Regions from separate parts of the Homo sapiens genome. Here region 1 is linked to region 2. Evidence: fine-mapped expression QTL. A gene starts in region 2. The other region holds a variant in brackets. All regions are shown on one strand. Distances are from middle to middle. Region 1 holds the start of MIR133A2 (microRNA 133a-2). Region 2 holds the start of LINC02970 (long intergenic non-protein coding RNA 2970).

What was found. PIP is the estimated chance that this variant, and not a neighbour inherited with it, causes the effect.
Region 1: its variant is fine-mapped to the expression of LINC02970 in left ventricle (GTEx, PIP above 0.99).

The regions. Positions count from the first base shown.
Region 1 is chr20:62,561,916-62,576,895 of GRCh38, forward strand. It overlaps MIR1-1HG (MIR1-1 host gene), which reads left to right. Exons shown (of 4, transcript NR_171007.1): 3 at 3,074-3,185; 4 at 8,529-8,849. MIR133A2 (microRNA 133a-2) reads left to right here and starts at 2,997; the gene lies at 2,997-3,098. It also overlaps the pseudogene RPL7P3. RefSeq lists enhancers at 1-243, 244-761, 7,389-7,890, 10,193-10,322, 13,789-14,290 and 1 more and a silencer at 9,913-10,002. The variant A/AGT (reference allele first, on the strand shown) is at 7,281.
Region 2 is chr20:62,595,173-62,610,152 of GRCh38, forward strand. LINC02970 (long intergenic non-protein coding RNA 2970) reads right to left here and starts at 8,269. Exons shown (of 2, transcript NR_184037.1): 1 at 7,806-8,269; 2 at 1-2,046. RefSeq lists enhancers at 8,480-9,269, 9,270-10,060, 10,061-10,850 and a silencer at 8,588-8,737.

The sequences.
Region 1 (14,980 bases), 33 kb before region 2:
TTTTCCGGAGAATCCACATCCCAGGCTCCAACCCCAGTTCTGCTGTCCTGGTGAACGGTAAAGTCACCAGAAACGCCTGGGCCACCTCTCTGCCAGGTCTGGGCACCCAGCCGGGGACACAGAGGGGACCAGCCAGGAGCTGCCCCTCCCTTGGCGAGCTTGCCTTTACTCGGGGGGCGCAGGGACTCCTCACTCGATGAGGAAACCACAGTGGCAGCTGGCCCCAGAGAAGGCCAGGCAGGGCTGGCCCTCCCCTACCCGGAGGCTGCTGGAGCCCTCGGGGCCCGGGGATCTGAGGCCCCAGGAGCTAGGGGCGGTCGCTGTGGTGAGGGGATGGGTCTTGGCAGGAAGGCAGCCCATGCCTGGGAGGCGGGAGGCAGCACAGCTCAGTTTGGGGAAGGCAAGCTCCAAGGCCGGAGAGCGTGGGGTGCGGGGGTCTAGGAAGGGTGAGCTCTGTGAAGCACCTGACCTTTGAGCCATGGGGCCCTTGGGGAGGTTTTGGGGCTTGTGGGGTGTTGGTTTCTTGGCCTTTTTAGAGAGAAAAGAAAAAAATACTTACAAGGAAGTTGAGGAGCCTCAGGGACCTCCCTTGTCAGCCCTCGCCCCATGCTGGTGAGACCCCAGGGTTCAGAGGGGAAGGGGCTAGAGGATCTGCCAGTGAGTGGGAGCTGCTGCCTGAGGGAGCAGAGCAGAACAGGGGGGTGCCCGGGTCCACAGGGGTCCCCGACGTCCTGCCCGAAGGATGGACCTAGTTCCGGCACGTCCCAAGAACACGAATTGTGGGCCTGTTCCTTCACATTTGCAAGAAAAGGTGTTGATCACACCCTTGGCAAAGAATGACTGGGAACCTCCCTAAGCCAGGCCACATTGGGGTGAGGGTACCTGGAGGCTGGCTGCCACCTCATGGGGCAGCATGAAGAGAGAAGGGCCTGGGCCCCGGGGCAGGGGACGCTGCTGTGAGCCCCAGTGTCCTCCTGAGGGGCAGCACAGGACTGGCCTTGAGGTACAGTGGGGTGTATGGGAGAAGACGGTGGCTGTCGGTGCTCAGGGCCGCACCTGGCACTTGGCCGCTCGGTGTCTATTCACAGCTCACGCCCACCACCGTGGCGGCTGCAACGCCAAGCTTGATGCCTCATCCAAGGCCGCAGTGGCCTCCCCGTGGGGGTTTTGCAGCCTGCCCCAGTGCTCTGCTGCCTTTCGGGTGAAATGACCAGTTTGTTTGCTATGTTGATTGGCAAATGCCAGACCTCCCAGCTCCTGATGGGATAGAATCGCGGCTGGGACTCGAATCCCCGGCTTGATCTTGTCAAATCTTCTGCTCCATTAGGAATATTGACAGGCGATAAATGGACAAGTGTGTGCCGGCTTCGAGGTCTTTGAGCCGTCCTCACTCCAGGGCCAGGGAGGGGTGGACTCTGGGAGCCTTGAGGTCTGCCCTGCACCCTCTGTGCTACTGGAGTAAGGAGGAGAGAGGTTTGCAGAGTGTGGGCTGATGGCCCGGAAGCCTCTCTGTTTTGGGGCGCGAGGCTGAGAAGGCTGGGGCCCAGCCCCGACTTATAGGGGACTTTGAGGAGGTGGTCCTCCTACACGGCACAGATCTTTCTGGAGGGCACCGTGGCAGGGACAGTCAGGGAAGGCAGCTACGGACGGGTCAGAGCAGGCCTGGCAGAGGCTGGGGTGGGGGGTCGTCCAGCTCAGTCACTCCCAGAGGGGACTTGGAGCGTGGGCATGGTGCTGTGCGACCGTCCCTTTTGCCTGAGGGGCCTGAGCTTCTGTCCCTGCAATGTCAGGAGGGGGACAGAAAGGCCAGAGGACAGGCAGGCAGGGCAGCCCCAGGTGTGCAACGGGCAGGCAGGTGGCACAGGCCCTAGTGCGCAGCGCCCACTCTGCCAACCTGGTGGGCGAGGAGCAGGTGCGTTCACCTGTGCTGCCCAGGACGGCCTGTGCTCCCGGATAGAAGCTCACACACATGGGTGCCACATCCCCAGCACTGCCGGAGACACTCTCCCTCACCTGTCACGGCTCCTGATGAACGGGGGCTGCAGGGAGACTCATTTTATAAAAGGGAACTTGCTCTCAAGGCACTGAAGGTGACATTGGTGTGGGGGACGCGGGAGCCAGGCAAGAGTGATGTCACGTTCGGACCTCCGTCCTGACACTCCATCCTCACAGTTCCCTTGGGCATGGAAATGCCCCTCAGCAAGATGCGGGCAGGGCTGCAGGTCTGGGGCATGGGGCCCAGGGTCAGGCCACGAAGGCCCCCTCAGGCTGTCCTCCCACCACCATGCAATGTGGACGTCCCTGGAATCTTCCCGTCCTGCCTACCCAGAGATACCATGTGGTGTCAGAGTCCATCCCGTCCCACCCAGGCCATGGCAAGCCAGGCAGGACGGGGTCCTGGGTGGGCTGCCCCATGGTTAGCCAGGGCCCAAGGCTCACTGGGAGGTCTGTCCTGCCTCTGCTCCAGCTATGAGCATGGTCTGGGAGGAGTTTGCAGGGGAATAAGGGCCTCAAACCTGCAAGATCACTGTGCCCACAGATGTGAGCCCCCTGGGGCGGGGCCCGATGGTCTGAGCTGTATCCCACAGCTGAGGCTAGTGCTGGGGGCAGTGGGCACTTGGTGAAGCGAGGGCTGTGGAGGAATCGGGCGGTGACAGGCAGAGAGCAGTGAGTGTCAGTTCCAGAGCATGGAGGCCGCCTGGCACCCCCGACCCTCCCCAGACCCCTGCGGGTCCCCGATGGGGGAGCCCGGGCAGAGCGAGAGGGTGGTGAGTTGCGTGTGAGCGGGTGTGTGTGTCTGTGTATGTCTGAGTGTGTGTGTGTGTTGGGGCGTGTGGCCCTTCACACCAGTCCCTGCAGAGCTTGAGGGAAACTCCACGGGGTGGGGGCCCTCCGGGAGTTGGGGTAAGGGCCTGATGCTGGCCGCGAAGCCCCATCTCCATCGGGACTGCTTGGTGGAGCCGCCTTCTTCACCGACGTCGCTGTTCCTCGGATCTGGGAGCCAAATGCTTTGCTAGAGCTGGTAAAATGGAACCAAATCGACTGTCCAATGGATTTGGTCCCCTTCAACCAGCTGTAGCTGTGCATTGATGGCGCCGTGCGGCCCGGCCGCAGGTCCCGCAGCCGTGGAGAGGACCCAGCAGGTGGCGCGGGGAGAGCCCGGCTCGGCACGTGGTCAGCTCCAAGTAAGTGAAGCCCTGAGTGCCGCCCCCGCCCCCGGAACACTTCAGTGCAGAGCCCGAGACCCTTCCCCCTGAAAGTGGGTGGCTGAGGAACGGGGTCATCCCCACAGCTGGGTGCTCCTGCTTGTTCCTCCTTGCCAGGGCACCATGAAACCAATGTTCATTGCTCACACAAGAGCTTTGCTTGAAAATGTGGGCTTAGGAGCTGGGCCCTGTGGGTTGGGCCTGCCGGGGGCCTGGGCTGGCCCCGCCCTGTCCTCTTCCCAAGGACCCTTCTTCGATTTCTCCTTTAAAATGGCCTGGACTCTAAGGCACCTCCAGGGACCCACAGGGGTGAGCACGGATGCTGCGCTGGTGACCTGTGGGGGTCTGTGTCCTCAGTGGGGAGGCCTGGGCCGGTGGCATCTCTCCAGATGGCCTGAGGGGTGCTGGGCCTGGCAGGGAGACTACCAAACAGGAGCCCCTCAGCATGGCCCGTGGCTGGGGAGGTGCCTGTGAAGGTTGCTGGGGCCCCCAGGGGCTCCCCATCTCCCCACCCTCTTGCGGGAGGCAGTGACGCCCATGTGCAGGGAAGCTGGGCCATCAACGGGCACAGCTGCAGTGAGCAGAGATCTGCAAGGGGGTCTGCAGGCCAGGTGGCACCCAGGACCCATTGTGGGGGTCCCCGACCATGTGCCCTTCCCTTGGCAGGGGCTGGCATGAAGGGGCTCAGGCTGCTGGGCGCCAGCAGATTGGAGGCCTGGGCAGGCACGGGGGCTCCTGCTGGGCATCTCTAGGCCTGGGGTTCCAGGGCCTGTCAGGAGTGACCCCTGACTTCTGCCCAGAGTTGCAGACGTGGGGCCTCCCCTCAGGGGCCACCAGCTGCCGGCCCCAGGGCAGGTGAGGCGAGGGTCAGGACCCTGGGAGGGATGAGCAGAGGGAAGGGGCATGGTAGGCAGAAGGGCAGACACCCCCTGGACTGATGGACGGATAGAAGACCAGGTCTGAAGACAGTGGCCCTGGCTCAGGAAGCCACGGCTCCCTCCTCACACCCTGCCCAGCTTTAGTGCCTCTAATTCCTAGGGTCAGCTTAACCCTAACCTTGGCACCGTGTTACCACCCCTCTTCACACAGAGTCGCTATGTCCCCAGATAGTGGGAGTGGCCGAGAGGCTGGGGTAGTGGACGGCAGCCCAGTCTTCAGCACAGGGCTGGGGCTGGAGTTTGAAGACCAGAGTGTGCGGGATCCATGGGCTCTGCTCCCGAAGGGCTGCATGGCCTCAGCCTTTATTCAAGCCTCTCTGAGTGGAGGGCAGAGTGGTCAGCCCCTGCTGGGGGTCCTGGCCAGGCGCCGCCTCCTGGGAGCCTCCGGGGGCTTCCACTGCTGAGCCCTTTACAGGGGGCAGCCGGATGGCCTGGGTGTGGCCGTGCCTTTCAGGGTGGCCTGACCCCAACCCCACCAACCCCAAGCTGTGTGGTGCCGGGGTCTCCTGCCAGGGACATCTGTCCATTGGGTGAGGCCTGGTCCTGTCCTGGAGGGGAGACTTTGGACATCCACGCAGCCGAGGACCTGGTCGGCCTGCCCTCAACCTTCCCTCCTACCTGGAGGGCGGTGAGGTGGCTGGGGTGCAACAGCTTGAGGTCCTCTGTCAAATACATCACCCGGGTGAGGACTCAGGGAACCACTCCCGGGCCTGTGGGAGGGATTTGTGCAAACATCATGCCAAGAACAGTGTCTGTTGTTGACCCAGCACCCGCCAGGGAAGGCTGGAGCCACTGGAGTCCCTTCCAGTGCAGCCTGGGGTTCCTGTTGGTCACCACGCCGGCCGTGAACAGGGACGCCTGCTCCGTGTTGCCCGCCTGGCCCTTCCTCGCCACCCACGGCCCCGCCAGCCCGACCCTCTGGCACTGACACCTGCTGAGGGCAGTGATGCAGCTGCAGAAAGCCCACAGCTGTGTGGGAGCTGCCCTGCCAGGCAGGGCCTCGGGGTACCGAGGAGGGTGGCAGGAACGGAGGGGAATGAAGGCTCCGTCCCAGCCAGCCGAGAGCCAGGGCCTCCTGCTCCCGGCCTCCCGTCTCTCCTGTAAATTAAAGGATGAGATGAGGCTAAGACCATCTCCGGTGCTCCACCATGGTCAGGACATCAGCTCCAGATGACTGTAGGACACTGTGGCTGTTTCCTGGCCTACCCACCCGGGGCATCTTCATGGGGTCCCCAGTAAAAACCACTGCACCCGCCTTGCCATCCCCAGGACGGGGCCTCGTCCACTGAAATCACAGTGCAGCCCGGCACAAGGCCACGCACAGTGTGGACAGACAGGGCATGTGGATGGAGATGAGGGAACACTTGGAAGCAGCCCCCATGCCTGGCGGGCCAAGCACGAGGGGCCACACGGGCGCTGACCCTAAGCAGCCCCAGGCAATGCATGACCGCGGCCGGGTGTCCCAGTGAAACTTTATTGGCGGACGCGGGAATTTGAATACGTATCATTTTCATGGGTCACAAAATGGGTCTTTTGATTTTTTCCTCCTAGTCGTTAAAAAGGTGAACGCTGTCCTGAGCTCTCGGGGCTGTCTGAAAGCAGGTGGCAGGGGGGATTTGGCCCTGGTTGCAGCTGCCACCTCCAGGCTAGATTAAGAGGATACATGAGCAACAGGTGCTGGGCACACAGGGCCGGGGACACAGGGTCACCGAGGGCGGCACTGCTCCTCCCAGCTCCTTGCTGCATGTTTGGTCAGTGTGCAGGTGGAGGCCCCAGGGCAGCCCTAGTGTTCACAGTGGTGGGACCGCTATGAACAGCCCCAGCCTGCCCAGCAGGAGAGAAAAACCAGGAGGAGGCAGCTGGGGCAGGACAGAGCCTGGAGCCTCCAGGTTTGGGGTGGGGCTGTCTCATGCCACATCCCCTGCTCCCCCCCGCAGCCTCTTGGCTTTGGGCTGAACTTGCCCCCAGCAGATGCCCATCTCTGGAGCAGGTGCCCACTGGGAACAGGGCCCAGCCAAGCCAAGGCTACTCCCCAGGGTCAAGGAAGTGGGGTCAGGGATGGGACACAGCCCACTGGAGGACCGCAGTTTCGGATCCCAGGATCCCAGCAACCTCGGGTTGGGGTGCACGGGAGCCAGCTCTGCCAGGCTGGGCATGCTGCGGAGTGCCTGGGCATCAGAGAGGGTGAGGAGCTCACCACAGTCACACAGCCAGCCCTGGGCGAGCCCAGAGCAGAATGGGAACACAGGGCTGTCTGCCCCAGGGCTGCGTCTTCCCCTCAGGAATGAGCGGCCCTTGGCTGGACTTGGCTGGACTTGGCTGGGCTGAGTTTGGGACCCTGAGTTTGGGGGCTCCTGCCTTCAGTGCCCGCGCCTGGTCTCCATGCTTTGCTGTGTGTTTAGCTGCGTGGGGGGTCCCTGGAGCATCTTGCCTTAGGGGCTCAAGGGGAGAGGGGGCAGCAGAAGGGGGGCCCATGCTGGGGAACGGGCTTTATGTTTCCTGGCGCTCTGCCATCTGTCTTTTCATCTCCCTGGGAGGGGTGAGAATGTGGACCTGAGTGAGCAGTGGACATTGCCAGCTCAGTGACCGAGAGGATGGGTCTAAGTGTCCGGTGCTGTGGGAAAGCCTCTCCCCACCAGGTGCAAAGGTGACAGGAGTTGGCCCATCCCAACCTCGGCTGAGGATCTGCAGATCCTGGGTCCTGTATCACTGTAAGACAAGTCCAAGAGCTCATTAGAAATGCAGATTCCAGGCCCCGTACCCACCCCTACCCCAGTCAGAGCCTCCAGAGCAAGGGCCTGGGAACCTGAATTTTTACCGAGTGTGTTTGGTGAGTCTTATGAACAAGCCACATCAACCTGGTCCTCTTGATGCCTGCTGGCCCCGCACCTGCCCTGCGTACACCTTGCTCAGGTCCCCTCCCTCTCCTCCCTACCCCTCAGCGGGCCATCTCCTCTGGAAAGCCCCCCGGCCTCTCAGCAGTACGTCTCTCTCCTCTATACTCTAGCAGCCGCCATCACACTCGGGACCCTGTTGGCTGCAGTGGGTCACTGTGGAATCTCCCCTCTCCCCGCAGCCTTGGGTGGAGGGTGGGAGGTGTGTGCAGTTTCCCAGATGTCAAGGGATGAAGTAACGT[A/AGT]GTGTGTGTGTGTGCGTCTCCTTGTTCTGGGAGAAAGTGGTGTTGACCACAAACAAGCAGAAAGAAGGTTAAATTCTGCGACCCCAAGCAGCCCCTGGTGAGATGCCAGGCACTTCCTTCCAGACTTTTTTTCCATACGTAGCTCAGTTCATCCCCATCCCACCTCCCACCACACACACTAAGGCAGCGGCCACAGGGCTGATAAACAGCCCTTTCTGCAGAGCAGTGCCTGGGCCCCCTCCTGTATCATCAGTGGCTCTGTCCACCTTCCTGCCCGAGGTCCTGGGGTCAATGCAGTGCCAACACGCCATCCATGACCAATGCGAGCAACCTCACTGCTGTCCACAAATGCTCCTGTGCCAAGCCCTGGGCACAACGTTGTCCAAACTCTGCTGGCTCTGACATGCCTGTGGTTCCATGGCATCACCAAAAACATCCTGACTTCCTTCCTCCTGAGCATGGGATGGAGGCAAAGGCCTGAGCAGCCTCCCGTGGGTCACCCACCACGCCTGCTGCGCCCACCGCACCTGCTGCGCCCACCGCACCTCCTGCACCCACCACACCTGCCGCCCCTGCCGTGGCTCCCGTCCCTCTGCAGGGCCCTACTTCCCTCTCCTCAGCAGCTCGCTCAGGCGCTGTCCATCTCCCACCCCAGCACCCTGTCCCTCCTCAGGTCCTGCTGACCGGGCGGCCTCTGGTCTGCAGCAGGGCACACGGGCCACCAAGCGCTAGGCTGTGGGGTCGCTTGTCGAGGTTGTCTCTCCCAGCCCCTTGCTCCCGTGTCCGTGGCCTGGGACTTCCTCCAGGTGTATTTGTGGAGGAAGCCAGAGAACGGGGGCAGGGTGTGGACAAGCCTCCGAGGGCCTGAACAGGAGGCGGGGTCCCAGGCAGAATGGCCAATGCGGCCTCCCAAGTTTCAGGAACAACCCGTGATCTGGAAGCTTTGGAAACTCTTGAAGACAAGGAGCAATGACCTGGGTTGGACCAAGGATTCCAGATCCCTGCTCTGCTGCCTCCAGTGGGAACACCCACACGCCCTCCCCAGGACCCCTGGGCCGACCACCTGGGTTTGTGTGTTTCAGTCCTGGATCTTGAGCCCTTAGAAGAGACCCTGCTCCCACCCCGGCCACTCCGTCTCCTGCTTCCTCACTTTGTGTCCACTTGTCCCAGCGTGCTGGGGGCGAGGCTGGTGCTCTAGGACAGAATTCTGGTCCTGGCTCCTGCCCTGGGTTTTTTTTTTTCCTGTAGGTCAGCCCTGAAATGTCCATTACTCACAAAGAAAAGGAAAATGCTCATTTGAAAGAAATTCTTCTCTTTGTCAATGCTGAGGCATTCTCTCAGCCCCAGCCCCACAGTGCTCCAGTGTGTGAAGGGCAACAGCTGACGGGGAAGTTCAGCACATCTGTGCTGACCAGGGCTGGAGGCGATGCCAGTCCGTGCAGCTGGGAACGCCTCCTCTGCTATGGCTGGAGCCACTGCTGAAGGGACTCCACCTGGCACCTATGCCACCAATGGCCCCTGAACGGGTATCTAGGCCCACCCTTAATAAAGATGAGCTGCTCATTCCCAGTTTCAGACCTTGTTTATCCTCCCCAGCTCCCCAGTGTGTTCTGGGGGAGATCCCTCCACTGTCAGACAAAAACTTCAGAATGACAGCGGTCATGCCACCGAGCACCAGCAGCATTGGCATGTGCTTCTCCTCGTCAGTGCGCCTCTGGCTCAGTCCAATGCCAAGCACTTACAGCTGGGGAAACACACACAAGCACATACACACCCCATACACTGGCACAGGCTCACATGTGCACACACCCACACATGTGCAAACACACACACGTGCAAACACACACACAGAGGCACATGCACATTCTCACACAGGCACACACAATGCACACATGCACGATGCACACACAGGCACACACGTGCACACCCAGACACATGCTTACACATGCACTTACCTGCACATTCCCACACACGGACATGCAGGCACACCCCTCCACACACACATAAACGCACATGTATGCACAGCTTCTCACAGATACACAAAGCAATGCAGGTACTCATGTATGTATACATGAGTACACATGCATGCACACAGGCACACACATGTGCACAAACATATATATGCACACACCCACACATGCACAACACACACACATAGGCACACATGTGCACACACTCACATGCACACACGCTCCCATCCCCCCACCACACAATCACACAGACGCCTAATGCCTCGCAGCAGGTGAGACCACCCATCAGTAGGATTAGGGGCCAACAGAGGGTTCCGGCAGCAGACGCAGGCAGTTTGGAGAAGGGGCTGGGTGTGAGCTAAGGCAGACAGGGGAGGCTGAGTGAGGGAGGAGGTTGGGTCCCTGAGGTGGGGGAGGGGGATGGGTGGGAGGTGGCTGAGGGAGCTTCCCTGAGAAGCTCAGAATGAGGCAGTCACATGGGGGGTTGTTTGGGCTTTCCCAGGTGAACCCTGTGCTTCCCCCTTCCCTTCCCTCTCCCTCTGTGTTCCCCTCCCCAAAGCTATGGCCCCTCACCACCCCTCTGCCCTGGCACCTCAATGAGACCCTGTGGAAGTTCCTGTAGACAGGAAGTGGGATGGGACCTGTGGGGAGGTGGGGCCTGTGGGGAGGTGGGGCCTGTGAGAAGGCGGGGCCTGTGGGAAGGCGGGGTCTGTGGGAAGGCGGGGTCTGTGGGAAGGTGGGGTCTGTGGGGAGGCGGGGCCTGTGAGAAGGTGGGGCCTGTGGGAAAGTGGGGCCTGTGGGAAGGCGGGGTCTGTGGGGAGGCAGGGCCTGTGGGAAAGTGGGGCCTGTGGGGAGGCAGGGAGCCACGACAGCCTGCCAGCTTTGCCTAACTTTTTATAACAGCTTGATTTTAAAAATGTTTCAAGTCTGTTTCAGTCTGTAGGTCCCTCCTGTTGCTCTCTCTTTTTTTTTTTATAATGTGTCTGCTGAAGGACCAGGTCGTTTGGCCTGGGGTGTGTCATGCATCAGGATTGCTGGTGGCGCCCTCTTGGTGCAGTTCTGCCTGTTCCTCTGTCCTCTGAGCTTCCTGTGTGCTGGTGGCTGGACCCGGAGACTCCTCCCACTCAGGCTGCATCCCTGCAGCAGGAACCCAGGTTCTGTTTTGTCCCCCCATCAGGAGGACACAGGTCAGGGCTGTGCACTCCTGGAATGGTGGCCAGGCTTGCTCTGTGCCTCAAGCCACTAATCCATCAAGGTTGCAAGACGGTGATGTCCTGAGTCTGGAAGTTCTTTTTCACTTATTTGTCGGGATACCTTTATGGAAACTCTTCTCCTCCACGCAGTCTCATCCCCAGTGCCACTGTCCAGAGGAAGCAGGATAAAGGCACAAATCTTCTCCTGCAGCCGCCGCTTTTCAGGAAAATGCACCAGGTCCCCGAAGCCCTCCTGAGGATTGGCTTGCTCGATACCACTGTGCGCGCAGGCCCCTTTCCAGCAGGAACTGTGGACGGCATCGAAGGGAAGAGAAGGTTCCTGCTGCACCAGAAGCCCCTTATGGAGCAGTGAAGGATTTCACAGAACTAAAGATCAGGTGCCTGAGACAGGAGTTTTTAAAAAGATGCTTTGAAAGCCAAGGGGGAAGCTGAGTTATGAGAAAGCTTTGCACCACCGCAAGGAATACAGAGCCCAGAGCTGGGATCCGAGTCACTGTGGCACTGGGACAGAGGCACTTCGTCGTACGCACCTGGGAGCCCAGACTGGCCTGGCCATTGGCAGCAGGGGGTCCCCGGTGTGGGCTTGCAGCTTGTTCACCTTTACTGTGTCTTCAGGGGCACATCTGTCCATCTCAGCAAGGCTTCAGTGAACGTGCCTTCAGGACGTGGAAGCAGACACCGCACTGTGTCGGGGGCCTGAACACGAAGTCGGTAGAGGAGCAGGTCTCCAGGCACGGCTCCGGCAACACCAACAGGAAGCGGGCCACCTTGGAGAGCGCTCTTCCACTGCTGGAGTTCCTGGTCAATACGGCATCGTCTGCGTGGAGGGTCTGATGCATGAGATCTACGCTGCTGGAAAACACTTCAAAGAAGCAGACTACCTCCTGTGGGCTGAAGTTCTCTTCTCCACCAGGTGAAATGAAGAAAAAGCCCACTCGTTTTGTAGAAGGTAGGGGTGCTGGCAGCCAGGAAGACCAGACCAGCAGGCTTTCTAGCAGAATGAACTCAGGTCTACATCATTATTTTTGTAATCTGGTAAGTTAATAAATGGTGACTGCCTTTGAATTTAAAAGAAATATGTATCATTATGGATTCATGAACCGAAACGTGTTTGGTAGGTCTCAGTCCACTGCAATTATTATCATCTTTGCAGCTCAGATCGTCCTGTCTCTGGCCAGGTGTGTCTCATCGGGTGGACCCCACGTCCTGCGTGCTCTCTCAGGGTCAGCTTGGTTGTCATATAATTTACATACAAAAAAAATGCACAGATTTTAAGTGTGAAGTTTGTAGAGTTTTAACAAATGTTGAGTTTTACACTCATGCAACCACCATCACAACCAAGATCTGGAAGATTCCATCAGTTCAAAAACTTCCCTCATATACCTTGGCAGTCATCCCCTTCCTCTGTCCCAGCAATCATGGACTAGCCAGCATGGATCAGATCTGTTTCAGCTGGAACTTTCTAAATGGAATCATGCAGTGTGTGGGCTGTGTGCCTGGCCTCTTTCAACATCATTTTAAGACTCTTCTGCGCTGTTGTGTGTTTCCATAGGTTTTGTTCCTTTTCTTTGCTGAGAAGGGCTCCATTCTATGACGACACCATTGGCCTGCTGATGGGCATTCGAGAGTCTCAGCCTCCACAGGGTGCAGAGGGCAGAGGCAGGGCTGCAGGAGCCACATGGGGCTGGTTGCTGTCACTCCTGCCATGCTGGGTTGGCTGGGGATAGAAACTCAACTCAGAAGATGAATCAACTTGCTTATGTGGCCAAGAGGTCTGAAAATAGGGCTGGATCCAGAACCCAAACCATGTCATCAGAAATCTTTCTCCATAGCTCAGCTCCACTTTCCTTGGGGCTAGCTTCACTCCTGGCAGGCTGTCTGCAGGCGGAGCAAAATGGACACTGAGATTTCAGGCTTATATATCTAATCGGTGGGACAGAGAGGGAGGAGAGAGGGAGAGAGAGAGAGAGAGGTGGAGGGGGAGAGAAAGATGCAGAGAGAGACAGAGAGAAAGAGACAGAGAGTGAGAGACGCACAGACAGAAAGAGACAGAGTGAGAGAAAGAGACAGAGAGGAGGGAAAGAGACAAAGAGAAAGAGAGAGACAGAGGGAAAAAGACACCAAAAGAGCAAGCACGAGAGAGATTCATTTCAAGAAACCCAGCAAAGGTCCCAAGATGGGCACTCGCTGGCCAGGCTTGGGTCACTTGACCACTTGGGGTGGGAGAAAGCCATCCCCTAGAACTACCCAGGCTCCCCGGATTGAAACCAGGGACCTGATAATGAAAGGAGGAGGGACGCTGGGCAGGCAGAGTGAGGCCACCCTGCACCGTTGCCTCCACAGTGTGCTGATGCCAGGCCCCGCGTGAGCGTCTGTCACCCACCGTGCACTGCCCTCCCACCTGGTGGGCCGACTCCCGCAGCCCCGCCGTCTCGATACAGTGGTGGGTGGGTGGTGAGCTGCTTTCCTGTGCTCTGACCTTACTTTATTTCTAAGAGTGAAAACAGAAAGACGTGAGTGCCAACGCCAGCGACAGAAAGCAGGCTCTGTGAACAGCGCAGAGGCAAGGCTGGCACTGCCCAAGCTGCCCGGGGGACAGGCACGTGAGGCAGGTATGGCGCTGTGGACTGCAGACTGGGACGTTTGGGGCCACTTTCCTATAGAGGGTGTATCTTTATAGCAGCTGTAATACACGTTTCCTCATTGGAGGAGAAGACACGCTGGGTGACCATCTGTGTGTCAATGTACACAGTCAATTTTGTACATTTTCCAGGATTGCATTGTGGACACAGTGAAAGAGACCCCTGGGAGAAATGCTGCGTTCAGTGGAGACTGAACCCAGGTGGGGGGCTGGGGGGTGCCTCCTGTGACTCGGGGCAGGTGCCTGACTACCTGGGGTGCTTTCCAAGGAAGGTGGGCAGGGGCATGAGGAGGGCCCCTCCAGGGCCTCCGTACCTAAGTGAAGCTTCGTCAATAAGCTTCTCGGGAGATGGCCAGGGGCAATGAGGGAGACAAAGGGAGCTCCAACTCAAAACCTGAGAGAAAAGCAAATGGCGAATGTGATTTCATAAAAATGTTTCACTGACAAATCACAAGGCTTTTCCTGCTATGGGAACCCCATTCCTCAGCTCTCCCCACCGGAAAAGAACCTGGTGGGGCAGGGTGGGGAGACCCAGTCCCACACGGGAATTTCTGGGTGGAGCGTTTCCATATTTTTCACACCAGCAGGTGGACGCAGCAGTGAGTAAATCATCTGCATCTTTTGGACGTGAGGCTGCACGTGGCACTCTGTGGATAATGCATGCACATCTGCTCATCGCTTCTTTTTTGCAAAGTGCGCCTGTCACCCATAAATCCATCACATCCACGGCCAAAGGCTCCTTCAGAACGAGCCAAATTGCAGTTTCAGGTGTTGGGTCTTCTCTCACAGTCTCTCTTGCACGCACACTGGCTTGTGCACACAGGGACCTCCTGACCGGGCCCGGGGCGGTTGTGGATGTGTAGGGTCTTTCAGGAGAGCAAAGCTGACTTGAGGACAGACAGCAAAGCAGTAGCAGCAAAGCCCCGCAGCCCCTCGGAGAGTTCTTTTCATTCCCGGAACCAAGAGTGGGAGGAAATGGCCCCTAGGAAGTGTCTTATTTTCTCATTTGTTAGACGCCGCTGTCAGCCTGGGAGAGCAGGCACTCTCTGTTGTGAATCAGCCCAGTTGGATGAGCTCATGCTGTGGGGGCTGCAGCCCGCCGCCCCTGCACCCACTCCATTAGCTGCAGGGAGGTGAGCTCCGCGAGGGGCGGGCCAGGGCGCCACATCAGATCACTCCCCTTCACGGAACCCAGTCTAAGTGTGGGATGGCCCTGTCATGGCTCACACCAAATAAAACTGAGTCCAGGACAGCGCTGTGAGCCCTCACCACACCCTTAGCTGGAGGCCACAGGTGGCGGGGCTCAGGTCCGAAGCCCTTCAGCAAAGTCCTGGTGTGGGGCCTTGGAGAAGCCACCAATGTCTCAAGCCTGCTCTCACCTCCTCATGGGAGGGTCAGGTGGGGCCATGCAGTTGAAAGACATCAACATTCGCCACCCGCACAAGCGGCCTGGGCAGAGGCTGGCTGCAGGCCCCTAGTCCCCACCTCTGCTCCTTCTCCCAGCCTGGCCTGGGTAGTTGTGGGGCGGGGAGTCTGAGGCAGGGGGTGCCGGAGGAGGCCGTGCCCTTGAGATGCTGGGAGAGTGCTGATCTCCCGCTCCTGGATGTGTGGCCGAGGCCTCCTGAGTGTGCCTGGGTCCCGCCTGCCTGGGGCCACCGTCAGCCTCCCTGATGCTTCGAACACCATAGCTGCCTCTCCTTCCTCGCCGTTCCCTAGAGGAAAGTCCTTCTCACCCTGTGCAAGGAGCTCTTGGTTTGGGAAGAGACTGGACAGGACCCCCAATGACAGCTCAGTCTGGGAAGGCAGCCGATCTTTCTCAGGCCTGGGTACAGGTTTATGTGGGATCCTGGGCACAACATTTACCTTCTGCACCCA
Region 2 (14,980 bases):
ACCCCATCTCTACAAAGTAAACAGTAAAACAAGAACAACAACAAAAAAACAAGCCAGATGTGGTGGTGTGTGCCTGTAGTCCCAGCCACGGAAGGCTGTAGTGAGCTGTGATCACACCACTGTACTCTAGCCTGGGCAACACAGTGAGACCCCATCTCTAAAAAAAAAAAGGAAAGAAAAAAGAAAAAAAATTAAACTGTACAATTTTGTCAAGAATACAGCAAAAGCAATGCTGATGGAGTTTCCTGGTGTCCGTGTGCCCGTTGCTGGCGATGCTGACTTTGATCTGGGGTTTGGTGGTGTCTGCTCCCGTTGACTTTGATGACGGTTCCCACCAGGATTCTGCGGCTGAGTTGGAATTCTATGGTAAGGAAAAGCTGTCTCTCCCCAATGCCTGTTTATTTATTTACGTCAGTACGGACTTGTAGATTCTTCTTCTATGGGTTATGTTTAACATCTCATCAATATCTTCCCCCACATTGTTCAGATTTGCCCAGTGGACTCCTCCCCGTGGGATCCGATGTCACGTGGGCGTGTCCTGCCTGTGTTGGCTGCGAGCGTTTCCTCCTGACTCACACCCAGTAGAGCTGCAGCCTCCACTGGGCGAGGCGGCCTTGGAAAAGGAGGCGGGTGCTGTCCTGCTGTGGAGGGGCTGGCGGGAGGTGGGTTCTGCAGGGTCAGTCCCGGGAGGTGCAGCTGTGGAGGGGCTGCTGACCCCCAGGATCCCCGAGGCCGCCTGCTCCCGAGAGGCCGCCCCACACGCCAGCCTCAGCGTCGGGAGAGGAAGCCCCACATGCCAGCCTCAAGGTCAGGAGAGGAAGCCCCACATGCCAGCCTCAAGGTCGGGAGAGGGCGCCCCACATGCCAGCCTCAGCGTCGGGAGAGGAAGCCCCACATGCCAGCCTCAAGGTTGGGAGAGGAAGCCCCACACGCCAGCCTCAGCGTCGGGAGAGGAAGCCCCACATGCCAGCCTCAAGGTCGGGAGAGACCGCCCCACATGCCAGCCTCAGCACCAGGAGAGGCCGCCCCACACACCAGCCTCAGCGTCGGGAGAGGAAGCCCCACACGCCAGCCTCAGCGTCGGGAGAGGAAGCCCCACACGCCAGCCTCAGCGTCGGGAGAAGCAGCCCCACACGCCAGCCTCAGTGTCGGGAGAGGAAGCCCCCACACGCCAGCCTCAGCACTGGGAGAGGCAGCCCCACACACCAGCCTCAGCGTCAGGCTCTGAGTCCCGTTTCTGCCTCTGGGCTCCTCGTATGTGTGTGTCAGCATCAGATGCAAAGAAAGGGGACGTATCCTGGTGGGGGGACCCGGAGTCTCCGTTGCCCCCACAGATCAGTCTCTGGGTGCCTCCCTTGGTGCTGAGAGCAGGGAGGGCCTGAGAGCCATCCCGAGCCCGTCTCGGTTCACGCTTCCCTGCCTGGCAGGACCCAGGGAGAGCTGGGCGGGTGGGGCAGCCACTCCCGGCAGTTCCGAGAGGATCTGGAGGAAACGTGCCTTACTGCAAGGAGATGGCTGGCTAGCGGTGGAGCCCTGGGCGCCCTCAGGGGAGAGCCTTCCGGGGACAGCTGCCACCCTTCTGTGGTGCCGGCCTCCTTCCCGCCATGCACCATGCCCACGGCACCCAGATGGTGGAGCCGCCGCCGGTTCACACTCTGGGGAGTTTTCCCAGCAACAGGTCCCTCCAGCCAGGGCATGCAGGAAAGTGCCCTTACGACGTGCTCAGGGATACAGCCACTGCTCCCAAACGTCTCTGCCCAGAAAGGCAGGTGGGATGTTGACCATAGACACAATAACCAACGCTTGCTGTCGTGGGGCCTGTTTGACAGAGGGACAATGGAGGCCAGAGAGGCAAAGGTGACTTGTCCAAAATCACCCAGCCAGGGCCATTAGCCACCTGCTCAGCACTGCAGCTTTTGTGCCAGGGACCTGCAGACACTCACTCACACTCATGGAGCCAGGAGGACCAATCCATGAGCACAGGGCACCTCGGAGTCCCGGGCGGGCATTCTCCGGCGTCCTTCTTCTGAAGCTTCTGAAAAGTTGCTGAGAAAGACAGAGAGGGTGACAAGAAGAGGACAGGTGTGAGACCCTGCAGAACTGGGTTCCACGTGCCAGCAGGACCCAGAGACCACGGCACTCCCTTCTCCCTACTAACTGGAGACTCCGAGAGGAGTTCTAGACATGGCAAGACGAAACAAGTCCGTATCCCTTCTTTCCCAGAATCGAGAAAAATGACCGCATTTGTCAGCAGAGCATGCACTAGGCGAGCCCTGCCTTGCTGTTTAATTCATCCCAATGCTCCTTCCGAAGGGGCCCTCAGAGGATGCTTCCAAAGCCTGGCATAGGCGAAGCTCAGGACCCTGCACCAGGAGGTCCCACCCCGGAGCCCGGATCACTCCGGGAATCACAGCTTTCGGGAGGAGCACCTTGCTACCGAGCCTTTGGGGTCCTGCCCGGGCCAGCCCTTCTGCTTAGGGACCTGCAGTGACCCTGTGCTGGGTCATGTTCTTCTTGGCACAATGAGCACTCCCTGGGCAGGTGGTCCTGGCCCCTGGGAGCTCGGGGATAGAAACACAGAAGAGGTGTGGTCGGTGCATCTCTCAGATGACTCCACTTAGAGTAGTGTCCCCTGCCTCCAGCTTCCACCAGAGTGTGCCTTGGTGGAGACAGTTGCCAGCATGGAGGGGGCATGACCAGCCTGGGCCACTGCCAGCCTTGCTCAGCTGACAGCTGCTGCATGACCTTTGGCATGGCCTGTGGTCTCCCTAGGCCTCCCCATCTGTTGAACAAGAAGTGATCTGGACCAGAGACAAGCTGGCAGCCACGGCTGGGCAGCACCCACAGGCATGTGCGTCTTAGGGCTGTGCAGTGCTGTTGAAAGTTTGCCGTACACTGCTGGGGGGGATGGAAGATGGTTCGGCCACTCTGTAAAACTGTCCTGCAGGTTCTTAAGCTAGACACACCCCTACCAGAGACTCAGCCGTTCCACTCCTAGGAATTCTTCCCAGAGGGATGAAAACGCGTTCACACAAGGACTTATGCATGACTGTCCATAGCAGTTTTATTTGTGATAGCAAAAACCTGGGGGAAAAACCAAAATGTCTACCAACAAGTGATTGGATGAACAAATCATGGTGCATCCATACAACGCAGAAATAAAAAGGAGTGGAATTTTGAAACACATGACAAAATCAAACGTGAAAATAATTATGCTGCGTGAAAGAAGGCGTGTATACATGTGACTTCGTTCATATGGAATTCTGCAAAATGCAGTTGTCTGTAGTGACATCGGTGGTTCCTGGGGACAGGGGTGGGAGGACACAGGCAGGAGGACATGCTGTGGGTGACGAGGTTCACCGTGGACCATGGGAAGGGTTTCGTGGGTGTGCACATAGGTCGAAGCTTTCCAAATCATCACTTTTACATGTGCAGTTGATTGTGTCAAATAATCCTCAGTAGAGCTGGTCAAGATAGTTGAAACTATATTCAAAACTGGGAAACTGAACATAATGACCCCAATTGCACATTTCTGTTGGAAAATTAGAAGTTCTGGTAACACTAGGCCTGTATTCAGGTGTGGTGTGGGGAGTGGGGTGTGGCTTCCAAGGGCTGGGCGTGGCTGTGTTGGGTTGGGCGTGGCTGGGCTGGACACGGCTGAGCTGGGCTGGGCGTGGCTAGGCTGGGCTGGGTTGGGTGTGGTTGGTCATGGCTATGTTGGGCTGGGTGTGGCTGGGTGTGGTGTGGCGTGGCTGGACTGGGCATGGCTGCACTCAGCTGTGTTGGGCTGGATGTGACTGGGCGTGGTGTGGCGTGGCTGGGCTGTGCGTGGCTGCACTCAGCTGTGTTGGGCTTGGCTACTGCCCTCTGCACAGGCCTCACCGCTCCTCACTGTCCACGCGCTCTGTGGTCCAGCATCATTTCTGGTCTCGTTGGCTCTGCGGATTGTGTCCCTTATGCCTGGCCAGCTGCCTTCATCAAGGGTGACTGCCTGGTGCCTGCACAAGTTTGAGTTTGATGGACTTAAATGAATTTCACACTTTTAGTCACTGAAACTTTGGCCAACCTCCATCTTCCTACAGAAGCTCCAAGCATGAAAAACACAAATGTGGAGTTACGGTGTCTAAAGCGCTGTCAGCCCTTCCAGCCCTGCACACTCCCTCCTTCTCCTCCCGGGGTGGCCACGAGGCAGCTCTAGGGTTTGCACATCAGAGTAGTGCTGGGTGTCCTTCCCCTCCCTTGCCCTGGCAGTTCCAGGCCCTGTGCCAGGACCACACACCTCCCACACAGGTCCTCTCATGGGGCTGGTGCCCCCGAGCACACGATCCCCTCTCCCTGATCCCAGGCTCCTCTGTCATGGGAGGGGTGCGAGTTCTTGGAGGCCGAGAGTGTGGCCTGCCCAGGACCACTGGGAAAATGCAGGGTGAACTGTGGGTCTGGGTGACTCTCATGAGCCCCTCCTCCATCCCCCACAGCCCCTAAAGAGTGGGACGGTCTCAGGACCGCGTCCCGGGGTGAATCGTGCTCCTGAAATGGGGACTGTGGTGCACAGTCACATCATCCCTTCACACGGCGGCCACCAGGACACCTTCAGGGCACTTCCGGTGGCAGGAAACATCCCCAGGCCTGACTGCGCCTGAGGACGGTGATGCCATGGACCAGGAGCGCTTCCCGGAGCGGGAGCAGGCGCTCGCTGGCTGGAGCTCCCCCACTGTGTCTGACGCCTCATTCCCTGGATGTTCAGGGTTCCGGTGCTCAGCAAGAACCTGTCCGGACACGCTGGGGAGCAATGCCCCCACAGAACATCGGGGGCCAGCTGGACCATGGCACGTGCCAGACACTGCACCCCAGCAGCGGTGCATGCTTCTCCAGGGCACGCAGAGCAGTGACCAAGGCCGACCGCGCTGGGTCCCAGCACAAGTCTCAGTAGATCTTAAAAGACTCAAGTCGTGCAGAGAACAAAGTAAGAATAATCTCAAGATTTGTTGAGACTTGTGTTCCTTGACTATCCCAGAATTAGAATGAAAGGAGAACCCAATACAGAACATCCTGAAACATTAAGCAACTCAATTCTAAATAACTCGTGAGCGACCGGCGTCGTGGCTCACGCCTGTAATCCCAGCACTTTGGGAGGCTGAGGCAGGCAGATCACTTGAGGTTAGGAGTTTGAGACCAGCCTGACCAACATGGTGAAATCCCGTCTCTACTAAAAATACAAAAATTAGCTGGTCATGGTGGCCCACACCTGTAATCCCAGCTACTCGGGAGGCTGAGGCACAAGAATCATTTGAACCCAGGAGGCAGAGGTTGCAGTGAGCCGAGATTGTGCCACTGCACTCCAGCCAGGCTGACAGAGCAAGACTCCATCTCAAAAAAACCAAAAGAACTCATGAGTTGTTTAGAAGTTGTTAATTAAAACAACATATCAACAGAGGAGGTGACCTGGTATTTTTAAAATGTAACTTTCATTGTTATTCAGGTAGGGTGAGGCCCACAGGTCAGGAGACAACCACCATCAAAAAGATGATTTGTCACGGGTCCCAAGAGGACAGAGCTGGCCGCATCACCACGGTGAAGGGGCACAGGGCAAGCACCAGGTAGGCCAGGAGGCAGAGGGTGCGAGGAACGTGGTGTGGGAAGGACCAGGCCAGGGGGTGGACAGGTGGAGAACTGGCTGGTTGCATTAATGCCAGCTGGTCTGGGTGTAGCTCCTGGCCCTGGGGTGATTAGGGCAGGGGGACGTTGGCCCAGAGTGTGGCCCAGTTGGGGAGCGGTTGGGGTGTGGGCTCTGGAATCCTTGATTTGCTTATGAAGGGTGATCTTGCTGGGAAGCCCTTGGAGGGGGAGCCCCTCCTGGGTCACCCCAGATGTCAAAGCGCAGAAGCACAGGGTTAATGCAGAGGTAATTAGACACTATTTTGAATTCAATGGAAATTAAAACAACATATCAACATTTGTGGGATGCAGATTGACTGGTGTTTAGGATAGATTTTACAGCAGTAATTGCTGAAACGATAAAAAAGGAAGAGATCACAAATCACTCTAAGCCAAGAGCCAGCAAGCTACAGCCCACCGGCCATGTCTGGCCCCTTCTTGCTGTTGAAAATAAAGTTATGCTGGAGAACAACTTGGTATTTTATGTGTTTTCTGTTGCTGCTTTCACGCTACAACAGCAGTTGAGTGGTTGCAACAGACACCACGTGGCTCACAAAACCAAACATATTTACTCTCTAGCCCTTTACAGAAAACCCTTGCCAACTATGATAGGAGCTTTCACCTGGAGAAACTAGTAAGGGAAAAATAAATTACAAAACGCATGCGGAAAGTAGAAGGTAATAAAGATCAGGGTGGAAATCAGCTGAACAAAAAACAAAAACAGAAAATAGAGAAAATAAATGAAACCCAAGCTGATTCTTTGAAAAGATCAATACAATTGATAAGCTGCTGGCCAGACTGACCCCAAAACAAAGAGACCCTCATTACAAACATGGAGGCTAAAAAGGACATCACCGCAGACCCTACAGATGGGAAAAAAGAGTCGAGGGGGATGGTGTCCAATCTTCTGCCCATATATTCCACAACTTGGAAGAAATGAACAAACACCTTGCAAGGAGAAACCTTTCCTTTCATGCATTAAAGACATCGTTCTGCTGTCTCCTGGCTGCCGTGGTTTCTGGCAAGAATTCTGTAGTCACTGGAGTCACTGCTTTTGTGTACGAAATGTGTTGTTTTTCTCTAGCTGCTTTCCAGATGTTTTCTTCAGTTTTCAGCAATTTGATGATGCTATGTCTGGGTCTATTTTCCTTTCTGTTTATCTTCTTTGGGGTTCACTGAGCTTCTTGAATGCTTACATTTATGTATTTCACCAGACTTGGGATGTTTCAGCCAATATTCCTTCAAATAACTTTCTGCCCCAACCTCCTCCTTGCTTTCTGGAACCAGGTATGTGCTGGGCCTTTCGATACGACCCCAGCTGGCCCGTGATGCTTGTTCTTGTTTTTCCTCTTTATCTTCGTTCTTCGGAGTGGATATTTTCTATTTATCTGTCTTCACGTTCGCTGGCTTTCCTTTGTCTCCATTCTGCTATTGAGTCCATCAGTACAATTTTAATTGCAGATACTCTATTCTTTTAGTTCAAAAATACTCATTTGTTTATTTTTTTTCCTACCTCTCTGTGAGGTTTATTATTCATTTCATCTAATGCTCCTTTCTGAGGTGTGTGTGCGTGTGCTGTGTATGCGTGCAACTCGCAAAGCAGTTACCGCGGCTGCTGTAGGCATCTGTGTCAGTTGGGGCTGGCATCTGAGCATTGTCTGTTCTCTTGAGGATGATCACACCTTCCTAGTTTTGTGTCTATTGAGTAATTTTGTTTTACGTCTGAGCACACCGTGTGGACTCTGGGTGCTGTCCTAGCCCTCGGGGAACGTTGCTGTTTCCACTTTAGCAGCCAGGTTCATCCCAAACCCCACCTCTCTCAGTGTGGTTCTCAAGACCTTTGCTGGGTTGGCACTGCTGGGTGGCACTGTGAGACTTATGCGGATTCATGCACAGAATTAGGCAATTGCCGTGTCCAGCCCTCCCCCTTCCGGGGTTCCGCCCCCTCTCTTCCCTGGCTCTCCCCCTTCTAGGGTTCCGCCCCCTCTTTTCCCCTGCTCTCCTCCTTCCAGGGTTCTGCCCCCTCTCTTCCCCCACTCTCCCCCTTCTGGGGTTCTGCCCCCTCTCTTCCCCGGCTCTCCCCCTTCCAGGGTTCCACCCCTCTCTTCTTCCCCGGCTCTCCCCATTCTGGGGTTCCACCCCTTTCTTACCTGTAGGACTCCTTTTCCCAGGTTGGGGTTTCTATCTGCGTTTTAGCTGCTTGTGTTGCCATGTGGATCTGAGAGTGGGGCTTGCCCTCCAGACAAAGCCACAAGGAGGAAACCAGAAACTCCACGGCAGGTCACTCCTCCAAGTTCCGCCTCCGCCCTGCAGTCTCCTTACTTTGCAGGTCCTCAGTAGTTGTCTGTGTCTCATCCAGAGCTTGGTCACAGTTAGGGGAGGGCTAGGCTAAGCCATAGCAGGCTCGTGGATAAAACGTCACCTCCCTGGCTCTTTCCCAGGATTTCCTGGCAGAGGCCACATTTATAAGCCATGCAGTGTAGTCACCTGCTGTGTGCCAGGCAGCAAGCGCCATTAGCCCGGGAGGTGGTGAACAGCTCCTGGGGGCACCAGCCAGCACCGTCACCGTTTGGCAGCGGAGGCTGCGGCCAGCTCCTTGTCAGGTGAATGTGCTGCATGTTGATGCAACACCTTCCTCTTCTTGCCAACCCTGGGCCAATGTCCTCAGACACAGGCAGCAACGGAAGTGGCCACCTGCCCACCATGGCCTGGGGAGAAGGGGGAAGGGTCTGACTGGGGGAGCCTCAAGACTGTGCCACTTGCCCCAATCCCATGAGAGGCACCTGCTATGGCACCTCGAGCTGGGGCAGAAGGCCTGGAGCCCGTGCCTGGATGCTGCCCAGGACTCTCAAGCTAGTCCAGTGGCCTTGGCTGCAAAGTCCTGCTCAGGCCCACGTTTCCCCAGTGCCTTGCCCAGCTCCAGAGGGAAGTGATTGACCGCAGAGCCGATGAGCTCAGAGCCGGTGGTGGGCAGTCTGGCCGGATGGCGGTGACTCAGGGAAGCGGAGGGGCTCCCCCCACCCCGCTGCTGCTGCCCCCCGCGTCCCCCCCGCCTGCAGTAACTGACAGGAAGGGGCGGGAGGCGGATGGGCCGTGACAGCTTAATGGCTTCGGTTAAAGCATCCTCTGATCGTGCTGGCGCTGGGAGAGGCTCTGAGCTCGGGTGGCACTGCGGGCACTCTGGACACTGTCTCCGGCTGCCGCTGAGCTGGGAGGCTCCTTTCCAGCAGGCCACGCGGTCAGGGGCACCTCCTGCCGCAGCACCTGCCCAGCCCTCTGGGGACCAGAGTGAGCAAAGTGCTGGTGCTGGACCTGGCCACCGCCAGAGGCAAACACAGTTGGCCAGACCCAGGCCCCACCTGTTCACGAGATGCCCCATCCCTTGGAGCCTCCAGGAGCCAGGGCAAGTGTGGAGGCAGGTGAGACCCAGCGCCAGCGTTTGCTTCAACCAAAGAACCACAGCAGAGCCGCTGGGGACAGCTTGTTCAGCCAGTGCATAATCAGTACTCAGGATTGTGGCTGGTGCCCCTGGCAGACTCAGCCCTACGGGGATCGGCCCCCAGACGTGCCACAGCTTGGCCACTCTGCTCTGAGGAGCTGTCTGTGCCCAGCACGCGTTCCAGCTTCTGGGATGCACAATAGGCGCCCAGGCCTAGGCTGCGGGACGACCATGCTTGCTGCTCACAGCGCCTGTGAGTCAGAGACTCCGACAGGCCACTTGGGATGGCCCAGGCCTCCTCCCCAAGGTCTGCAGCCTCCTCGGGGAAGCCTTGGGGCCAGAGCCTGGAGACTCCAGAGGGAGTCTCCTACAGACGATGCCGCCATCAGTGGGACCTGCAGCCGGGATCTCGGGCTGGGCCTCTCCGGCAGCCCCACATGTGACATGGGTGGGCTTCCCGAGGCCAGCACTTGAGAGAGAGGTGGAAGCCGAGACGCGGAGCCACCTGGCATCCTTTCCGACAGTCACGAGGCCCTCAGATTCCAGAAGAGGGGACAGAGACCCCTCCATGGGAGCAGCCTTGGTCATGCTAGAGAAGAGCCTGGGGCTGGGAGACCCATGGGGCATCTTTTGAAAATGCCTCCAGTCACTCGTGTGGCCACCCAGCAAGGCCCCGAGTCATGCACAGCCCACCCGTGCATGCCACCTGCCGGGACCTGCCCCATCACCTGCCGGGACCTGCCCCATCACCTGCCGGGACCTGCCCCATCACCTGCCAGGACCTGCCCCATAGCTTTGGAGCCCTGTCTGCTGCAGGGGAGGGAGGCAAGCCCCAGAACAGCCCCGAGTTCTGCTGCAGTCCGGTCAGCCGGGGGCTTCCTGCCCCATTCAGTGTCCCAGGTCTGCATTCAGCAAGGGTTGGATGCTCCACCAACCCTGACCCCCCGGGAGCATACACCTGTGGGAGCAGGTGCACCCCACCTCCATGCACACACAGACACCTCCAAGGTTTTCCTGAGAGACAAGATTTGGCTCAGGACTCGCTGCTCAGAACCTGAAGGTGTAGAAAGTGCACACACTCCTAGCAGAGCCGACCTACTGCTATACCCTCCCAGCCGGTGCCCCAGGTCAGAGCCTGCCCCTTCCCCCAACCCTCCTGCCTCACCCACACCCCTGTAGCCTTGGGGACCCACAGAAACCACCGCAATGACCTCTTCTAGCAGGCAGGCCTGTGGTGCGCCTGCTGAGCTCAACCCTCCGTGAACTTGGCTGGCCCTTGCCAGGCGCAGCTCAGCCCTGCATCCGCTGGCACTGCCCACCAGACTTGCCCACCTGACCGGGACCGGGAATCTTCCTGTAGCCTCTCTAGGGAAGGTGCACTTTTCTCTAGCATCCTTTCTCTGGCTGATGGAGAGGGAGCTGGGTGAAAGGCAGGGCCTTGGCCAGAGCAGGCCTGATGGGTGGCATGGGGCTGGGGGTGGAGGAAGTTGGGGGAGGAAGTGTCTCTGGAGGTCCAAGGCCTCAGCTGGCCCTGCCCCCTGTAAACAGCCCTATTTTTTAAAAGGCCTCCTTACCCAGCTTCAGGGGTTTAAAGGACACCCCCTTCCCTTGGCCATTCCTGGGGACCCCCCCGACCATCCACAATATTGTACTAGTATCTAAAGCAGCCAGCAAGTCCTGTCTGTCTGGAGAAGGTGAGAGTTTTCAGGGGCTCAGGACGTGCTGAGCTGGGGGGAGCAGGGGGCATGGCTTGACACCTCACAGCGGCTTCCTGAAGCTCAGTGGTGCACAAAGCAGAGCCCACAGGGGAGCCCTCGTAACTCAAGGCCTCCAGGCCATGCTAAATACCCAGAAGCCACTGGTGGGGACCACTGAGGCCATGTGAGCAACACATTTATCATGAACAGCTGTTCCCCGTGTTACTCCAAGACAACACGAACAACTGGGCCGGGCAACCCAGAGAAATGCAAACTCTTCCTCATTCAGAAATAGCAAAGAAAGTTCTCCTTCCAGAAGGGCCCTCCCCACACCTTGTAAAAGCAATTTTAAAAATACAAATAGAGGCTCCTTCCTCATGCCAAGGTTCATTATTAAGGAAGAGAGCAGTTCCAGGCAACGCCTTTATTTAAATATGATGATTAAACTGTTTGGTTTTAATGCAAATGGAAGACACCATCTGAAATTCTGAAAGGAGAAAAAGACGCTGCTGGAGGTGGGAGGAAGGGAGAGGAAGGCAGGAAGGGAGGAGAGGAAGGGGCCAAAGCTGGTGAAATTCCTGGCATCAAGAAACCCCCTGGATGGAGAAAGAGCATGAAAACAGCAAACGGCCGCGAGGCAAACAGCAAACGGCCGCGAGGCAAACAGCAAACGGCCGCGAGGCCGAATGGACCACATTCCAGGCGAGGCGGGGGCAGTGTTCAGCTGTAGCTGCTCCCTGGGGACCCACACCCTGACCCCGTGCTAGGGAGCACTGGGCTGGGGGCCAGCGAAGCACTCTGGCGTGGACGGCAGGCCCATTTTTAACGGTGCTATTTCATTAGCAGTTTTACTCAGCTGCTGGCAGGGCCCCAGCACGGCTGCCTCTGTGGCTAGAGGGGTGCAGGGGGTGCTGGGCTCCAGGCCAGGCAGTGCCCATTTCCACAGAGCCAGTGCCCCCACACAGCCACATGCAGCAGCTTCCTTGCTACACCACGGGGCCTCCCTGGGGACTCTGCACCTGCAGCGCACACACTGTCCCCACCTGGCCCTGCCCACGGGGCTGCTGCAGAGGCGGGCTGCCAGCTCTCGCTCCCTGGGGAATCTGGAATCCCAAACTGGGAGACGGGGCGGGGGCGGGGCGATAATATCTGCACCAGCTGCGAAGATCAAAGCACCTGTGCACGAATGGCTGACCCAGAGTCTGGCCCCCTCATATGTGACCCACGCCCCGTGAAGGCTGCACCTGGAAACCTCTTTGCCACGTCGCCATCGTGGGCTAGTCTCGAGCTGCGCCCCAGCCAGAATCCTATGTATTTGCAAACTGAGGACAGAGAGGGTCAGCTGTGTGTCCACCACTGTCCACACCGATTTTAGATAATTTGGTTTCCTCTTTAAATAGCGTTTAAGGGAACGAGCAAACTGTCACCTCCTGAAACAAGTTTCCAATAGATTAAAGTGGGTCTTGTCTATATAGCACGCTCTGAAATGATCCTTGCCCATGTTGCCGATTAAATGCTTATGTGCTCACTGTCTCTTGGCCCCCAAATATAGGGCCTGCCTTAAACCTTCAAACCAAGGCGGCAGTGCCTTCGTGTTAGAGTCCACTTCTTTTTATTGCCTCTTGCCTAGAAAATTATCGCAGGGGTGCACATGCTGCATCTCCCACGAACAGTTGTCTGAGGCTGGGCTAATAGAATGTCTCATAAACCTCGAAAAGATGTTTCAAGAACACCTCCTCCTCTTGGGGCCATTCCCAGCCGAGTTCCAGAATCCTCAGGCCAGCAGGGAGATGGTGTCTGTTGGGACACTGCGGAGGGACCCCTTGTTGAGGTGGTGGCCCCAGTCCTGCCTTGGGGACCCAGCCCTGCCCTGTTCCATCCCTCTGTGTTCCGGATGAGGCTGCCCAGCTGCAGTGAATGGTCGGGGGTCGGGCCCGTGACCCGGTGAGGCGGGCGAGTCCATGCCTGGAAGTGAGGAGTAGGCTCGGTTCTTTCCAGTCCTGCTGCTTGCTGTCCTGCTGCTGCTGTCCTGGCACTGGGAGAGGCCAGCCTGCAAGGACAAGGCAAACTAGATGGGACCCTTCGGAGAAATCAGGCCATGGCAACACCTTTCTAATCTTAAGTCCTTGGCCAGCTACCATGCCCTGGAGACCTGCCGGTGTTCGGGTTCCATGGGGGGCAGCATGGCCATGCAGGGGACCCTCAGGAGGCTCCCACCAGGCAGCTGAAAAGGCACAACACTGGGAAGACCCAGGGCCATTCCACCAGGGTCCTGACCAGTCCTCAAAACCGCCAAGGTCATGAAAAACAAGGCGAGTCTGAGAAACCCACAGCCTAGAGGAGCCCACGGAGTGAGGAGCAAATGTTTCCTGGGGTCCTGGACGGGGCCCTGGGACAGGAGGGCGTCAGGGAAGTGCAGCATCCGGCTCCTTGCCGTGGACAATGCTGGCACTCTGGCCGTGACCAATGTCGCCTGTGACGTGAGACCTTAGCACCCCGGGGGGCTGGGCGTGGGTGTGTGGCGCTCTCTGAACTATCTTTGCAACTGTCTCGTAAATTTAAAACAATTTATTTATTTATTTATTTATTTTGAGATGGAGTTTCACTCTTGTAGCCCAGGCTGGAGTGCAATGGCACGATCTCAGCTCACTGCAACCTCCGCCTCCCGGGTTCAAGTGATTCTCCTGCCTCAGCCTCCCGAGTAGCTGGGATTACAGGCGCTCACCACCACGCCCAGCTAATTTTTGTATTTTTAGTAGAGATGGGGTTTCACCATGTTGGCCAGTGTGGTCTCAAACTCCTGACCTCAGGTGATCCACCCGCCTCAGACTCCCAAAGTGCTGAGATTACAGGCGTGAGCCACTGCACCTGGCTTTTTTTTCTCTTTTTCTTTTCTTTTTTTTTTTTTTTTGAGACAGAGTCTCGCTCTGTCACCCAGGCTGGAGTGCAGTGGTGTGATCTCGGCTCACTGCAACCTCTGCCTCCCGGGTTCAAGCGATTCTCTTGCCTCAGCCTCCTGAGTAGTACCCGGCTAATTTTTGTATTTTTAGTAGAGACGGGGTTTCACCATGTTGGTCAGGTGGTCTCAAACTCCTGACCTCAAGTGATCCGCCCACCTCAGCCTCCCAAAGTGCTAGGATTACAGGCATGAGCCACCATGCCCGGCCTAAAACAATTCTTTAAAAAAAGTATTTTAAAAAGAGGAAAATAAAACACAATTTGAACATTCATTGAGGAAAATAATGTTTTTTCAGAAACGAACTGCACTTTAATTTAATTTACTTGTTCACATTTTGGTCAGAACCCTGGAAGGAGATGAGGAAGCAGGTTTGACAGGCACGTGGCCACCGTGCCTGGGTTCCATGGTTTTATTAGAGAGCCAAGAGCAGTTGATGGCAATGATGAAGTCCCAGAGTGGAAAATGCCCCGCCCAGCCCTGGGTTTAACTGGCCTGCTGGCTGAGTGGACGCTGGTGTTTTTGCGCGGGCAGCAAGGGCTCAGAATCCCCATGTAAGACCCCGCAGCCATGATGAAGATGAGCTTTTTAAAAGTCAGAGGCTCCTGGCAGCTGCTGTGTGGGAGTGACATGGGGGAGGATGTGTGTGACATCAGGGACACCCCCAGCCCTGGCTTTGAGCAATAATGCTGGCAAGCCTGGGTGCAGATACGGGATTGGGAGAAACCAAGGCCTTGAACCGCTGACGGACTTGGTGGGGGAGACGCTGAGCAACAAGGAGCTGCCCACTGTGGAGGCAATGTTCCCATCCCGCAGGGGACAACTGTCCCTCTTCTGCCCCACCAGGTACAGAAGAGCCACAGGGGACAGGCAGAGAGGAAATGCAGAGGCTGGGGACTTGGGGGGTGGCATTCCCCACCCCGGGGCATTAAGAGGTCTCTCCAGGTAAACAGAAGCTGGAAGGAGCATGAACTCCCGGCAGGAACAGGCCTGCTGGCGTGAGGGGCCACAGGCCAGCGAGGGGCCCGGGATGCCGGTGCAGCCCCAGTGCCAGGAGGTCCTGTCGTAGGTCCCAGGCCAGCTCCTTCCTCTGTGTGAAGGGAGCCTGGAAATCCCAGAAAGATCTAACAGGATCAGCAGAAAACCAGGATGGAAATGCTGTGGAGGCCGCCTGCTGCCCGCCCTGCTGTGGGGGCCGCCTGCTGTCCGCCCTGCTGGAAGAATGTCCCGGGC